Linked DNA regions of Homo sapiens: region 2 is linked to region 1. A link means that fine-mapping ties the variant in region 1 to the expression of a gene that starts in the linked region. Tissue or cell type: whole blood. Region 1 holds a variant in brackets; the other region holds the start of a gene. All regions are shown on one strand. Distances are between the middles of the regions.

What was found. PIP is the estimated chance that this variant, and not a neighbour inherited with it, causes the effect.
Region 2: it holds the start of BTNL8, and the variant in region 1 is fine-mapped to the expression of BTNL8 in whole blood (GTEx, PIP above 0.99).

What each region holds. Positions count from the first base shown.
Region 1 is chr5:180,993,038-181,001,146 of GRCh38, forward strand. BTNL3 (butyrophilin like 3) reads left to right here. Exons shown (of 8, transcript NM_197975.3): 2 at 1-123; 3 at 4,176-4,451. Among named protein-coding and RNA genes, the nearest start is that of BTNL3, 8.2 kb to the left of the region's middle. The variant T/G (reference allele first, on the strand shown) is at 4,631.
Region 2 is chr5:180,894,864-180,902,972 of GRCh38, forward strand. BTNL8 (butyrophilin like 8) reads left to right here and starts at 4,296. Exons shown (of 8, transcript NM_001040462.3): 1 at 4,296-4,496. The coding sequence starts at 4,448.

The sequences.
Region 1 (8,109 bases):
TTGCAGGGGGGCGTGTCTCTCTAAGGCTAAAAAACATCACTCCCTCGGACATCGGCCTGTATGGGTGCTGGTTCAGTTCCCAGATTTACGATGAGGAGGCCACCTGGGAGCTGCGGGTGGCAGGTCAGTTGTTTATTTATGACTGAGTTGTCTTGTAAAGTCATGCTACCATTATCAGCTCTTAAAAGTATTTCAGATAATGAAATAAAACAGACTTTCCAGATTCTGACATGATGTAAAAAGGCTTCGGTGGGGATCACTGACCTGAGGTTTCTGGAGATGAGCCTGGCCCTGCCATCACACAGGTGGGATCATGATGCAGAAGACAGCCACCTGCACCTGCCACCACCTGACAGGATACAGAGGAAAGCCACTCCCAATGTTGGTGAAATGAGAGTGATAATGCCTGTCATATTTCAATTTCTTTTATTTTCTTCTTTTTTCTTGACTTCTTGTGTGTTACTAAACTTTTTTTAGGATTCCATCACAACTTATTGTTAGTCTTTTTTTAGTATAACATTTTGTAGTGTTTTCTTAGGTGCTGCTTTAGGTGTTATGATATTCATATATAATTTATCACAATCTACTATATCAACATTTTACCACTTTGAAGTGTGGAAACTTCATTTTCATTCAGAGCCCTTCAAACTCCACAATTTAAAAATAACATTGCCTTGAGTATTTCTTCTATATACATAAGCACTATATCAGATAGTGACTTAATTTCTGTTTAAACCATCATATATAATTTTCATTTTTATTTTTTATTTTTTATTTTTCTTTGAGACAGTCTTGTCCCGTCACCCAGGCTGGAGTGCAGTGGTGTGATCTCAGCTCACTGCAACCTCCACCTCCTGGATTCAAGTGACTCTTGTACCTCAGCCTCCTGAGTAGCTCAGATTACAGGCATGCGCCACCACACCCAGCTAATTTTTTTTTGTATTTTTAGTAGAGATGGGGTTCTGCCATGTTGGCCAGCTGGTCTCAAACTCCTGGCCTCAAATGATCCCCTGCCTTGGGCTCCCAAAATGCTGGGATTACAGGTGTGAGCCACCACACCCAGCACATATGTGATTGTTAAACACTAATAAAATGGAAAATCTATTGTAGTTTTCCTTATTCTTCTTTTTCTATTGCTTTTCTTCTTTCCTAATATTCCAAGATTCTTTCTTTTATCATTTCCTTTCTGTTTGAAGAATTTCCTCCAGCCATCCTTTTAGGATAGGTCTGCTAGTGACAAATTCTCTTAGTTTTTGTTTATCTGAGAATAAATATGCAAAAGATTTCCTCTTTATTTGTGAATAATGGTTTTGCCAGATATAGAATTTCTGAGTTTCTTGATGGTTATTTTCTTTCAGCAGTTGAAAAATGTGCTACTTCTTTCTGGCCTTGAAGATTTCTCACGAAAAATCTGCTGTCATTGGTGTTTTCTTTATTTTCAGAAATTTAATTATGATCTATCAAGGCATGGGTTTCTTTACATTTCTCCTATTTGGTGTGCTCTCAGCTTCTTGAATCTGTAGTTTCATGACTTTCACCTCATTTGATTAGATCAGCCATCATTTCTTTAAATACTCTTTCAGCTCTCTCTCTTTCTCCTCTCCTTCTGGGACTATGATGATATAAATGTTGATATTTTGTTATTGTCTCATAGGTCCTTGAGGATCTGTTTTTCCCTTTAAAAAAATATTTTCCTCTCTTTTCATGCTGGTTAAGTTTCATTGTTGTATCCTGGAGTTCAATAATTTTTTTTTTTTTTTTATGAGATGGAGTCTCGCTCTGTCGCCCAGGCTGGATAGAGTGCAGTGGTGCAATCTCGCTCACTGCAAGCTCTGCCTTCCGGGTTCACGCCATTCTCCTGCCTCAGCCTCCGGAGTAGCTGGAACTACAGGCACCTGCCACCACGCCCGGCTAATTTTTTTTGTATTTTTAGTAGAGACGGGGTTTCACCGTGTTAACCAGGATGGTCTTGATCTCCTGATCTCATGATCCACCCGCCTTGGCCTCCCAAAGTGCTGGGATTACAGGCCTGAGCCACCATGCCAGGCCAATAATTTTATTTTCTGTCATCTCCACTCTAGCATTGAAGCTACCCAGTTAGTTTTTGTTTTTGCATTTTTTTCTGTTATATTACTTCTGATTTGTTTTTTATAACATCTATGGTTTTTGTTTTTTAAATTTTTTGAGAGAATTCATAATTGCTTTTTGAAACATTTTAATAATAGCTATTCATGTTGGTCTTGGCAATCACATGATTGTCTATTTTCATTCAAGTTGATATTTAATTGGTTCTTGGTATGATGGGTAATTTTTAGTTGAAATCTAAATGGTTTAACTATTGTAAGATACTCTAGACCCTATGTAAAGCTTCTGTTTTGCAGGCAGTCACCATGTTTAGATTTATGACTCAGGTCCTAGTCTATTTTTGGTGGTTGTGGCTCCAAATACAATTTAATTTTCAGAGACTTTACTGTGTTATTTTGGTCTACTTTGCTTAACTGATGTCACTGGAGATTCTGCTCATCCTTTCTAGTACTAACTGTGGCAGTAAAAGGTGTTTTCCCATGTTGCTCCTCACTGTTTCTTGTGAGAGAGGTGATCATCTGGCATAGTGGGAAAAAGTACTCTTCCCCTGGTCTCCAGTCAATGGGGCTTATGATCAATTCTTTTGCCAGCACCACTTTGTATATCATGTATTTTCAGCCATTTAGGGGTGGAAAGATTCCCGCTGGGCCACCTACTTCTGCTGGAGGTGGGAGTGGGGGAGTGGTCATAGGATGCTCAGCTGCTGTGTTTTTTTTCTACTCCTGGGGTCCCTAGTCAGTCCTCCTTAGTCTTTCCACTTTTCAAAATGCACCTATGCTTGCCGCATTTCTAGGGTTTATGATTTTACTTAGAGAAAGGAGCAAGGAAGAGAAGTCTACATCATCTTACTTGAGCCCCCTTCCTTGGTGCTTACACCACCATCATTCTTTCATTAATTTATTGACTAACAAACATTTATTAGGCTCCATGCACTGATCCAGACCCTAGGGAATGACAGAGTACAACACTCAGAGAGGAAGTTCTGTTTGGAGTGGTTAAAAGGCAATATTAAATCATAAAATTGAAGTCAACCACATAAGAGGTACTTTTGCATATTTCCCAAGTCACAAATCTGAATGTCACAATAAACCCTTCCTTGATGTTCAGTCCTATTGATTCAACCTCTCAAATAGATTCTGCACCTGCCGTTCCCCTTCTCAGAGCCCTCCTCCTCCCCAGCCCTTCTTTTCTCTCACTGGAGTCACTTCAGTAGTTGCATGGCGGGTCACTCTCCTCCGGAGTGTTCTCTATGGTCCCTCCTCCATGCTGCTGCCTGGAGACCTCTCTAACATACAGGCCTTGCCATAACTCCCACCTGCTGGAAGCTGGTAAGAGCCTTACTGGTCTACAGTTCTTAAAGTGGCTGTGGGCAAGTCCACGTTGCTCAGGTCAGTGAAGGTATGACCTCCACGGCTTGCCTTGTGCCTTTTTCAGATCTTGTCTCACACCCCTACTCTCTTATACATCATCTGGAATATAAATATTCATGAGTCCTTGAAATCACTGTGGCATGTTAACTTTTCACATTGTGGTTTGTACTTGCCTCTTTTTGTCTAAAATGCTTCCCCTCTCCCAGACCTGACCACAACAAAACTCCTATTTTCTGACACAGAAGGGTGCAAATGTCATCTCCAGGAAGCTGTGCCTTTCCCTGACAGTTAAGCACTCTTCTCTGTGCTAACCTGACCATGCTTTCATAGTTGCCATTTCACTATGAAATGTATTTTATACAGTTTCCTCACTATTTGATCAATGAGTTTCTCATTAGAAGGGGCTGTGTCTTATTCACTGCATCCTATTTCATACTTAGGAATATCCAGGCATATATAGTGGCTGCTAAATAAATGTTGAATGAACATAGACCATGGAAGGGCTTGCAGTAGTAGCATGAGTGGATGTGTGTGTAAGAGAGAGAGAGAGAAAAAGATGTGTGTGTAAGAGACAGAGAGAAAAGGATGTGTGTGTGTGAGAGAGAGAGAGAGAGAAAAGGATGTATGTGTGTTATGGGTACAGGCTTGATGAACCAGACTCAAAATGCTGTAAGCTTGAAATTTGGTCTTTGCTTTCATCTTTCCCTGTTTTCTTCCCAGCACTGGGCTCACTTCCTCTCATTTCCATCGTGGGATATGTTGACGGAGGTATCCAGTTACTCTGCCTGTCCTCAGGCTGGTTCCCCCAGCCCACAGCCAAGTGGAAAGGTCCACAAGGACAGGATTTGTCTTCAGACTCCAGAGCAAATGCAGATGGGTACAGCCTGTATGATGTGGAGATCTCCATTATAGTCCAGGAAAATGCTGGGAGCATATTGTGTTCCATCCACCTTGCTGAGCAGAGTCATGAGGTGGAATCCAAGGTATTGATAGGAGGTGAGTGGGGAGAAGGAGGAGCAAGGAATGGGTGTGTGCATACGTAACCCAGGGTAGAGCAGCAGCTTGTGTCTGGGATTGTTGTGTAGTACCATCCAGCTTCAATGATTTGTTTTGAGAGTCAAAGATTGATGAGGTATAAAAAACAAAACCAAACATTTGATAAGGCAGAAGTAGAA[T/G]AGTTTACAATTTCAAGGCAGTAGAATTAAGTATTTCCTTCACCACACAATACCCCCATGGTGCAACACTCACAACTCAACACGTAACAAAACTTAAGGAAATTAACTCTAGGACTAAGAAAATAATTGTTTCTTCATTTTTAGAAAACGTCGTTGCTCCTTCATGAAGCAGAATAAAACTGTAGAAAATTTCAGAAAGGATTTACAAATAGTAGGAAAATTTACATAAACTAAAATGCTTCCAGAATCACACTCAATTAAAAGGATTGAATTTGCCAGTTAAAAGACAAAGAATCTCAGACTGGATTTAAAAATCTCATCGCTTGAACCCAGGAGGCAGAGGTTGCAGTGAGCCGAGATGGCACCACTGTGCTCCAGCCTGGGTGGCAGAGCAAGACTCCATCTCAAAAATGTAAAAATAAAAATAAAAATAAAAATAGACAAATACTAAAAATCTCAATGGCAATTCATAAGAGGAAAAATGTAGCACATATGAGCTATTCATTGAAAATAAAAAATACTCGAGAAATATTAATCACGAAGAATTGAACAGATATATTAGTGTCAAGAAAAGGAAGACAAAGTTGTAAGAAAAAGGGCATTAGGGATAGAGTTATTTCAAAAACATAAGTTCACTCAGTATAAGAATATGAAAATTTTAAATATATATACATGTACCTTATACATGTAAAACATAGAAAATATCAACAGAAATAAGAAAAAAGGTCATACTTCGAGTTCTAAAATTGATTAAATAAGTAGACAAAATGAGTAAGAATATATACTATTTGAACTAAAAATTAATAAGTCTGAAATAACGTATTTTTGGAGATGGCACTCCAGGTTTGTAGAATATACATTAATTTTTACCACACTTGGAACTTTTATAAAATTTTACCAGATATAAACACATACAATGGTTTTAAGAAAATTTTCAGACATAGATATCATGCACATGAAATTCTCTAATCATAATTTAATAAAGTCAAATGACCACAGCAAAAGATAGTTTAAATTCTTATGTGTTTGAAAAATTTTTAAACATTAAAATAACTGAGAAATTGAAGAAAGCATAGTGATAGGTAGAAAATTCTTAAAACTGAATGATAATAAAATTACAATCTATCATAATGTGTAAAATAGAACTAATATAGTTTTCTGAGTCAAAATTTTATCTGGCCGGGCGCAGTGGCTCACGCCTGTAATCCCAGCACTTTGGAAGGCCAAGACAGGCGGATCACCTGAGGTCAGGAGTTCAAGACCAGCCTGGCCATAATGGTGAAACCCCGTCTCTACTAAAAATACAAAAATTAGCCGGGTGTGGTGGCGGGTGCCTGTAATCCCAGCTACCTGGGAAGCTGAGGCAGGAGAATTGCTTGAACCCGGGAGGCGGAGGTTGCGGTGAGCCGAGATCATGCCACTGCACTCCAGCCTGGGCGATAGAGCAAGACTCCATCTCAAAAATATATATATATATATCCTTTAATGCTTAAATGTTCTTATTAGCATGAAATAGCTGAATATTGATATTAGGCATCAATATATATTTCAGAAAACAGCAAAAGAAAGTGGAAGAAATCCTAAAGATATAGAAATATGGAAATATAAAGACAAATAGTGCACATTAATACATCTAAAGTTAGACGGTTCGAAGTGTTATTAAAATAGATAAACTGGCAACATCAGTTAAGAATAAAAGAGAAACAGCACAATTAAACAAGGCAGGAAATAACAAGAAGGCACAACTAAAGATTTAGTAGAGATTTGTAAGATAAACTGCTTTGAATAACTTTTTCCTTTTCTATTGAATATGATGAAGTGAAAGTTTTCATAGAAAAATGTAAAATACAGGACAGGCGCAGTGGCTCATGCCTGTAGTCCCAGCAGTGTGGAAGGCTGAGGCGGGCAGATCGCTTGAGGTCAGGAGTTTGAGACCAGCCTGCCCAACATGGCGAAACCCCATCTCTACTAAAAATACAAAAATTAGCTGGGCGTGGTGGTGTGTGTCTGTAATCCCAGCTACTCTGGAGGCTGAGGCTGGAGAATCACTTAAATCCAGGAGACAGAGATTGCAGTGAGCTGAGATCGCCCCACTGTACTCCAGCCTGGGGGACAGAGTGAGACTTTGTCTCAAAAATTTTTAAAAAAGAAGAAAAACGTAAAATACAAAATCCGAAGGAAAGATAGACTACCTGACTAATTTGTAACCATGAAAGAGGTGGACTCAGCATTTAAAAGTCTTCCCACAAGGAAGACACAAGGCCCACATTGTTTTATATACAAAGTCTACCAAATATTCAAGAAAAGAGAAAATGTATCTTTCAGAAAGTCGGCCAGAGAGCAGAAAAATAGGAAATATTAAACTCATTTTATTGAGTCAACATAATTTTGGTATCATAAGAGAAATGGGCAATTCAAAAAAGGAAAAATTTTTACCAACATTACTCATAATTGAAAATGTAAAAATCTTACCAAAAATTTTGCAAGTAGAAAAGTCCACAAAAACATATATCATGACCAAACTTATCCTGGAAAAAAATGTTAGGTCAACATGGGAACATATATTAATGTAATTATAACATAATTCGTTAAAAGAGATAAACTATAATTTTCTTAGTAGATGTAAATAAAACAGATAACTTTCTACATCTATTCATCATGATTTCAACACTTGCAAATCTAGAAATAGAAGAAAATTTTTTTTATCAATCTAGAAATAGGAGAGACTCTGCTTAATCTGATAAAAAGATATCTAAAGATACTTGCAGCAAACATCATACAAAATAATAAGCCACCTAATTTTTTAAATACATACCGAAAACATTATACATAATGTGTCATTTAAAATCATAACATAGGCCGGGCGCGGTGGCTCACGCCTGTAATCCCAGCACTTTGGGAGGCCGAGGCAGGTGGATCATGAGGTCAGGAGATCGAGACCATCCTGGCTAACAAGGTGAAACCCCGTCTCTACTAAAAATACAAAAAATTAGCCGGGCGCGGTGGCGGGCGCCTGTAGTCCCAGCTACTCGGGAGGCTGAGGCAGGAGAATGGCGTGAACCCGGGAAGCGGAGCTTGCAGTGAGCCGAGATTGCGCCACTGCAGTCCGCAGTCCGGCCTGGGCGACAGAGCGAGACTCCGTCTCAAAAAAAAATAAAATAAAATAAAAAAATAAAATAAAATAAAATAAAATCATAACATAAGGAGATTGCATTAAACACTTCTGTTCCACATTATATTAGAGTACTGTTACTATTAGCAGCCACTTCAATAAGGGAAGAAAATGTAAAAGTTATAACTTTTAGAAAGAAAAAAATTAAATGGCCATTGTTCACAGTTTATATGATGATATAAACGGAAAATTTAGAAAAATTTACAGACAAATTCTTTCAACTCATAAAGGAATCCATCGTGTTCATGAAAAATGAGAGGAATAAACAAAATCTAATAAAATGTTTACAAAATCTTATTGAAGGGTA
Region 2 (8,109 bases), 98 kb before region 1:
AAGAGCTTCTGCACAGCAAAAGAAATGATCATCAGAGTGCACAGGTAACCTACAGAATGCGAGAACATTTTTGCAATCTATCCATCTGACAAAGGGCTAATATCCAGAATCTACAAAGAAGTTAAACAAATCTACAAGAAAAAAAAATCTGATCAAAAAGTGGGTGAAGGATATGAACAGACACCTCTCAAAAGAACACATTTATATGGCCAACAAACATGAAAAAAAGCTCATTATCACTGGTCATTAGAGAAATGTAAATCAAAACCACAATGAGATACCATCTTGTGCCAGTGAGAATGGTGATCATTAAAAAGTCAGGAAATGACAGATGCTGGAGAGGATGTGAAGAAATAGGAATGCTTTTAGCCTGTTGGTAGGAGTGTAAATTAGTTCAACCATTGTGGAAGACAGTGTGGCGATTCCTCAAGGATCTAGAACAAGAAACACCATTTGACTCAGCAATCCCATTACTGTATATACCCAAAGGATTACAAATCATTCTACTATAAAGACACATGTACACATATGTTTATTGTGACACTGTTCACAATAGCAAAGACTTGGAACCAACCCAAATGCCCATCAATGATAGGCTGGATAAAGAAAATGTGGCACATATATACTATGGAATACTATGCAGCCATAAAAAAGGATGAGTTCATGTCCTTTGCAGAGACATGGGTGAAGCTGGACACCATCATTCTCAGCAAACTAACACAAGAACAGAAAACCAAACAGTGCATGTTCTCACTCATAAGTGGGAGTTGAACAATGAGAACACATGGACACAGGGAGGGGAACATCACACACCAGGGCCTGTCGGAGGGTAGGGAGCTAGGGGAGGGAGGGGTAGCATTAGGAGAATTACATAATGTTGATGATAGTTTGATGGGTGCAGCAAACCACCATGGCACATATATACCTAAACCTGCACTTCCTGCACATGTATCCCAGAACTTAAAATATAATAATAATAATAATAAAGGGGTATTGAAATTCCCCAGTATTTTTGTTTTGCTATGTTTTCCTCATGTCCACTAATATTTGCTTTATATGTTTACACACCTTGATGTTGGTTGCATATTTATAATTGTTACAGTCTGATTAACTTATTTGCTTATTATTACTTAAAGACAATCTTAGTCTCTTGTAACAGTTTTTGACTTCTGGCCTACTTTATCTGACATAAATATAGTCACCCCTGCTTTCTTTTTTTACCGTTTGCATGAAAAAATTCTTTCTTTTCACTTTATTTTTGTCCTTAAGCTTGATCTAGTCTGCCATTGAAGCTCTCTATTGTATTTTTTCATTTCCTTCATTGAATAATCTAATGGCAAGACATCTGTTTAATTTTTCTTGATGTCTATTTCTTTGCTGAATTTCTAATTTATACCATGATTTTTTTTTCCTGATTTCTTTCAATAGTCTATCTATATTATCTTGAATCTTGCTGACTTTTTATTTTTTATTTATTTTTTATTTTTTTAATTATACTTTAAGTTTTATGGTACATGTGCACAACGTGCAGGTTTGTTACATATGTATACATGTGCCATGTTGGTGTGCTGCACCCAGTAACTCGTCATTTAACATTAGGTATATCTCCTAATGCTATCCCTCCCCCCTCCCCCCACCCCACAACAGGCCCCGGTGTGTGATGTTCCCCTTCCTGTGTCCACATGTTCTCATTGTTTGATTCCCACCTATGAGTGAGAACATGCAGTGTTTGGTTTTTTGTCCTTGCGATAGTTTACTGAGAATGATGATTTCTAATTTCATCCATGTCCCTACAAAGGACATGAACTCATCATTTTTTATGGCTTCATAGTATTCCATGGTGTATATGTGCCACATTTTCTTAATCCAGTCTATCATTGTTGGACATTTGGGTTGGTTCCAAGTCTTTGCTATTGTGAATAGTGTCGCAATAAACATACGTGTGCATGTGTCTTTATAGCAGCATGTTTTATAATCCTTTGGGTATGTGCCCAGGAATGGGATGGCTGGGTCAAATGGTATTTCTAGTTCAAATCTTGCTGACTTTTAAAAATGTTATATTATTATTATTATTATTATTATTATTATTATTATTTTGAGATGGAGTCTCACTCTGTCAACCAGGCTGGAGTGCAGTGGCACGATCTCGGCTCACTGCAACCTCCACCTCTCAGATTCAAGTGATTTTCCTGCCTCAGCCTTTTTGGGGAGAGTCATGTTTCTTTGCTTTTTCATGTTTCTTGTGTCCCTGTGTTGATATATGTGCATCTGGTAGAACATTTGCCTCTCCTAACTTATAAAGTAGCTTTTCTAAGAAAAAACTTTCACTTGTTGATAGGTCCTCGGGTGCTGAGTAGGGTGTATCGGCTCTGCTTCTGGCTGGCACAGTAGCGTAGTCTCTGTGAAGCTTCTCAGCTATAATCAATGTCAGTGACAAGTGGATGCCTCAGTGGCCCGTACTGCAGTAATTTGTGGGAGTGGTGGTAGCAAAGTAGATTACACTGAGCTCAGGCACCAAGAGAGCACAACTACTCCACCAGCTCAGGTACAGCTTCCCTCGGGTGGGATGCAGGGCTGGTTTGTGTGCTGAGGGAATAAGACCAGTGTTCTGGCTTGGGCATAGCTTTTCTGGAGGTGGGGCACCAGGCCGCTTTATGTGCCAAGGGAGCACAGCTGCTCCACCATCTCAGACATTGCTTTCCTGGGGCTGAGTCTGGGGCCCCCAGTTAGTGTGCACACAAGGGGGTATTGTTGCCATTCTATTGCGCATGCTTCTCTGGGGTCAAGGTGCTTGGCTCATGCTTGAGAGGGTACAACTGCTTCACCAGGCCAGGCTTGGCTTCCTTGCTGGGTTGGACTGTTTGGTCCTTGGGGGCCAGAGCAGCCTGTAGGTTCAGAAGCCTGGGTCATGACCGTTCCACTGGGCCTAGGCCTAGGCTTCGAATGGCCATGGGTGGGGCATAGCTGCCACTGGAATGGAGAGGATACTGTGCCTTCTCAGCAGCTTCATAAAAAGGTATTTTGGTCTATATATCCTTGGTAAATCTGTATTTCTGAGACAGCATGAGATCAATAATTTTCTATTCTACTCTCTTGCTTACAACATTCAACAACTCATTTCCTTTTTTTTTTTATCACAGAGTAATATTCCATTGTATAGATGTACCATAGTTTGTGTATACATTCTATGTATCATTATTGAATGATATCTGGTTGCAAACATTTTTGGCAATTATGAATAAAGCTGCTATAAACATTCATGTGCAATTTTTCATGTGGACATATGTTTTCAAGTCATTTAGGTGAATAAAAAGCAGTGCAGTTGCTGGATTAGGTGATAAAAGTATGTTTAATTTTGCAGGAAATTGCTGAACTGTCTTCTAGAACAACCGTACCGTCTTGCATTCCTGTCAGCAATCAGTGAGAATTCCTGTTGCTCCGCATCCTCACCAGCATTTGGTGTTGTCAGTGTTCTAGATTTTAGACTAAATGCAGTGTTTTCATTTTGTCCTATTCTAGATGCTAACTTTTATTGTGATTTAGTCTCGTGAGTTGTTTTAAATTGTTACATAAGAATTTCTTAGTGTATAGAGTTTCCTATGTTTTTGAATTACTTTTTAATTTTAATTGCATTATGATTAGAGTATGTTTATTTTGATGGTTATCTGTGGAAATTTTCATTCTGATCTAGTTAAGTGGTGACTTTGTGAGTTTCCGTGTGCTTAAAAAGACTGCAAATCTCTCATTGTGGCTGCCCTGGAACTTAGTTTATATAATAAATAAGTTTCCTCATGTCTGAACCTGCCCAGGCACCTTTCCCAATGTATCAGATGTTTAACACTAAGGATCTGTTTTGTTCTGGAAAGTTATTTTTATCTGGCCTCATGATTACAGTCCTGGCCCTGAACTTCAGAGAATGGAGGGGTAAGCAAAAGGACCTCAGACTGTGCCAGGAAATGTCAAGTCACCTGCTGTAGGCTACTACTAATGGAGCATGGCCTATTTACTTGGACACCAAACTATCCAGTGCTAACATGAGGTTTTTCAGGACTAGATCCCATGGCCATACAGCCCTGCCTGCCAGATTGGACGTGAAAAGTATTTCCGCATCTGACATTCCTGTTTCACCCACACAGGGCATCGTTTTGCCCAGGACAAAGTTCACCTCCAATCTTATCCACACTATTTCTATCTTTGCTTCCTTGATAAGATATAGACATTTATGCAGTGGTTCAAAGTCTAGAGTCCCTACACTTCTGGTACATGACAGCTGTGTCTCGATGGAGTAGACTCTCAGAACAGCGCAGTTTGCCCTCCGCTCACGCAGAGCCTCTCCGTGGCTTCCGCACCTTGAGCATTAGGCCAGTTCTCCTCTTCTCTCTAATCCATCCGTCACCTCTCCTGTCATCCGTTTCCATGCCGTGAGGTCCATTCACAGAACACATCCATGGCTCTCATGCTCAGTTTGGTTCTGAGTCTCCTCAAGCTGGGATCAGGTAAGACTCATCTTTGTTTCCTCCTTACTAACTAACAGTTTGAGTTCTTTAGCTACAATGGTTGCAGCATAATGGAATGAAGGCATCTTTGTCGTTTCCATTCCTTTGGCTTCTCCTAGCCTCAGCCTGGGGAAGGATCAGGCGCTGTGGAAACAATTATAGTAGCCCCCAAATAATGGAAACACGGGTGTTGAAGACGCACCGTGATCGTTGACGGGGACACACCTAACGTGTTAAGGTGAATAAATTCAGTGTTTCTCCCAGATGGGCTGAGTGGTGTAGGCAGGGTTATTGGAGCACCAAGGTTGCTGACATGGATGTCCATCTGGGAAGAGACACAGTTAGGATTTTTGGGGAAAAGACAATGTATCCAGCTAAAGACATGCTGAGTTAGAAATGTCTGTGGTATGAGACACGAGGGTGGAGGAAGGTGTACAGGTCTTGAGGTGAGAAATTAGCTGAAACCTGGCATATTCTGGGAAGAAATCCACTCTTCTTTCTCCTTCCAGTTACTGTTAACACAGAACCTAGTATATAGGATGTTGAGTGACTGAATACAATTCACAGAGGAAGCTTGAGGTTGGGGTAGAATGCTGGTGGCTAGATGGTCAGTACCCAGCCACAGAAGATTCGATTGACTGTGTTCACTTTCTGTCTGTGAAGGTTCATCCTGCCACCTGTCCACCTATATCTTTTTTGCTAAATGAAGCTAAGAAAACAGAAATAAGGGCAATCAAAACATAGAGCATGTTTCCTTAAAACAAAAACCCATATGTGTTACTAACAGGAGACGCTCTCGTTTCAGTTTGTTTTCATTTATTTTCTGACGAGCTTCTTTGTTTCCCTTCTGTTTCCGGGTGAGGCAGCAGGACATCCTGGAAATGATCTTGGAGACAGAAACATTTTATTTTTAAAAACTCTTATTTCATTTTCTTGTGAGCTTTATTGTTCACAGCTTCCTTAGGTGTTGGTTTGCTTATGATGACATGGAGATACGATCACATTCCTGCTGGGGCTGTGGTGAGGACTGCATGAGCTTGTGCATGTAGAGTGCACACAGCTGCACGGGTGCATGGCATGTTGCAGCAACAGTCTTGTTCCTTTCTTATTTTCAAGGGAAGGAAGTGGAAGGAGTGAAAGGAGATGTTATAGGCAAGAGAGGTGACAGCAGCAAGGGCTGGCCGGAGAAATGGAGGTACCCTGAAAAATGTTTCCTTGCCTCAAGAGCCCCACACAGCCCTGAAGGCAGCATCCATAGCAGCCCAGCTGGCATACGCTGGGTCCCCAAACCTGACCTAAGACAAGGGCCTTCCTGCCAGTGATTCGTTGAGCAGGTGATTCTGGGAAACAAAGTGAGGGAGTGGAGAGAGTGAAGCCAGTAGGGGGAAAGCCATAGAGGGTGCGCTAATGAGCGTTGCTGCGGTGGCAACTGGGACCCAGTCCCACTGGGACCTTTGGAGGAACTTTATAGATGGTGGCTCAGAGTCATTCCAACATCTACTGTCTCCTTTCCCCACTGGGTGAGATGTGCCGCCCAGGACTGCTAAAATCGCAAACCTTCTGAGCTGCCTTGTGCCAGGGCTAAGTAGGTTCCAAGGGTGGCAGGAAGCCCTCAGCAGAGAGGCAGAGGCCAGGCTCCAGGGACGGAGCTGTCAGCAGGCAGGGAAATGCCCATCCCACTGCAGGGGGACTCAGGGTTGGGTGGTGAGGAGCAGGGCCTCAACATCTGCTACACCAGGTCAGAAGCTGGTCAGACACCAGGCTGCAAAGTCATGCCTCATTTAATAATACTCTTAAAGATGCATGAGTGAAATACATTTCAGCAAGATTTATAAAATGTAATTAAACTAAAAAATTAGTGCTAAAATGAAAAAGTATCCACTGATCTAGAAATTCACACATGTAATTCACCTTCCCTCTGATGCACATGCAGACAGCACACACAGGTATATCCATATACCATAAATGGATACATGTGAATGAATCAAGAGACACTGCCAGTCAAAGGGGGTGGGTACTTAGAAGGTGAAGGGAGTGGGCCTCCATAGTCTGTGGTCTCTAAGAAGCAGTGTAATCCTTACAGGGTAGTAAGAGTGATTTACACCAGGAAAATTACTCAAATGATTGTTAAACAGATGAGCAAGTAAGAAAGGAAATGGGGCTCACCGTTCACATGCATAACTGTGGAGCCTGTTCTGTGTGACTGGCTCTGTGCTGATCAAGTGGGTACTATGCTGAGCAAGAAAATCAGGCCCTGTCCCCAGAGAGCCAAGAGCTGTGCAGGGGAGGCTCACAGAAAACATGTAATTGTCACACTTGAAGCAAGACAATGAAGAAAGTTTCAAAAGCGAGGTGAGGACATACATGTACCAAGAATTTTTTTTAAAAAAAATGAAGGCAAGACATGTTGACAAAGCACTAGGCGAACCACCTTTCAGTGCTAAAATAAAGTGGAAAAAATTACTACACAAGCGTAAAAGGCACATGCTATGGAAAATATAAGTCACACGTGAACGTGCTAAAGAACAAATTTACAGAAAACAGACTGCAAAATCTTGTTTCAGTGTCACAGCATGTCTTTCAGAACTTGGCAGAACAAGCAGATTTTCAAAAAAAACTAAGGAAGTACAAATAATTGTGTGCGCCATGGGCAGAAATGTAACATTCCTCTATAGTAGCCATAAAATATTGATATAATATTGTGCTTGAAGGAAACCTTAACGAATTGCCGCAAACTGGAGACTTTATGGCCCATACTCTTCTCTGGGCCATTAGAAAGACGTCAACTTTGGTTTTCAGCAAGGACGATGGAAATGGGGATGTTTGGGTTTTTTTTTTAATTGAAGCAAATGGGCAGATGGGAGAGAATGTGGCAATAGAACCTCCTGGAATCAAAGGGTCTACATTCAGAAAGAGACTTTTTCCTCTGGATAACATGGTTTTCTCATCTTAAAAATAAAAACATTAATAATACACATTTCTGCAGGTGCTCCTCAAGATCGAATGAAGTAACTGATGTGGACATGGTTTGTCAAATGTAAGGAGATACACAAATGCAAGTCACTGGCTTTAGAAATAGGATTGTGATGAATGTTTCCCCCTGATGCACATCTCCAGCCCAGCCCAATGGAGCCCTGAGTAGGTCACACTATAAAGGGTTTTTTTTTTTGTTTTTGCTTTTATACTTTAAGTTTTAGGGTACATGTGCACATTGTGCAGGTTAGTTACATATGTATACATGTGCCATGCTGGTGCGCTGCACCCACTAACTCGTCATCTAGCATTAGGTATATCTCCCGATGCTATCCCTCCCCCCTCCCCCTACCCCACAACGTCCCCAGAGTGTGATATTCCCCTTCCTGTGTCCATGTGATCTCATTGTTCAATTCCCACCTATGAGTGAGAATATGCGGTGTTTGGTTTTTTGTTCTTGCGATAGTTTACTGAGAATGATGATTTCTAATTTCATCCATGTCCCTACAAAGGACATGAACTCATCATTTTTTATGGCTGCATAGTATTCCATGGTGTATATGTGTCACATTTTCTTAATCTAGTCTATCATTGTTGGACATTTGGGTTGGTTCCAAGTCTTTGCTATTGTGAATAGTGC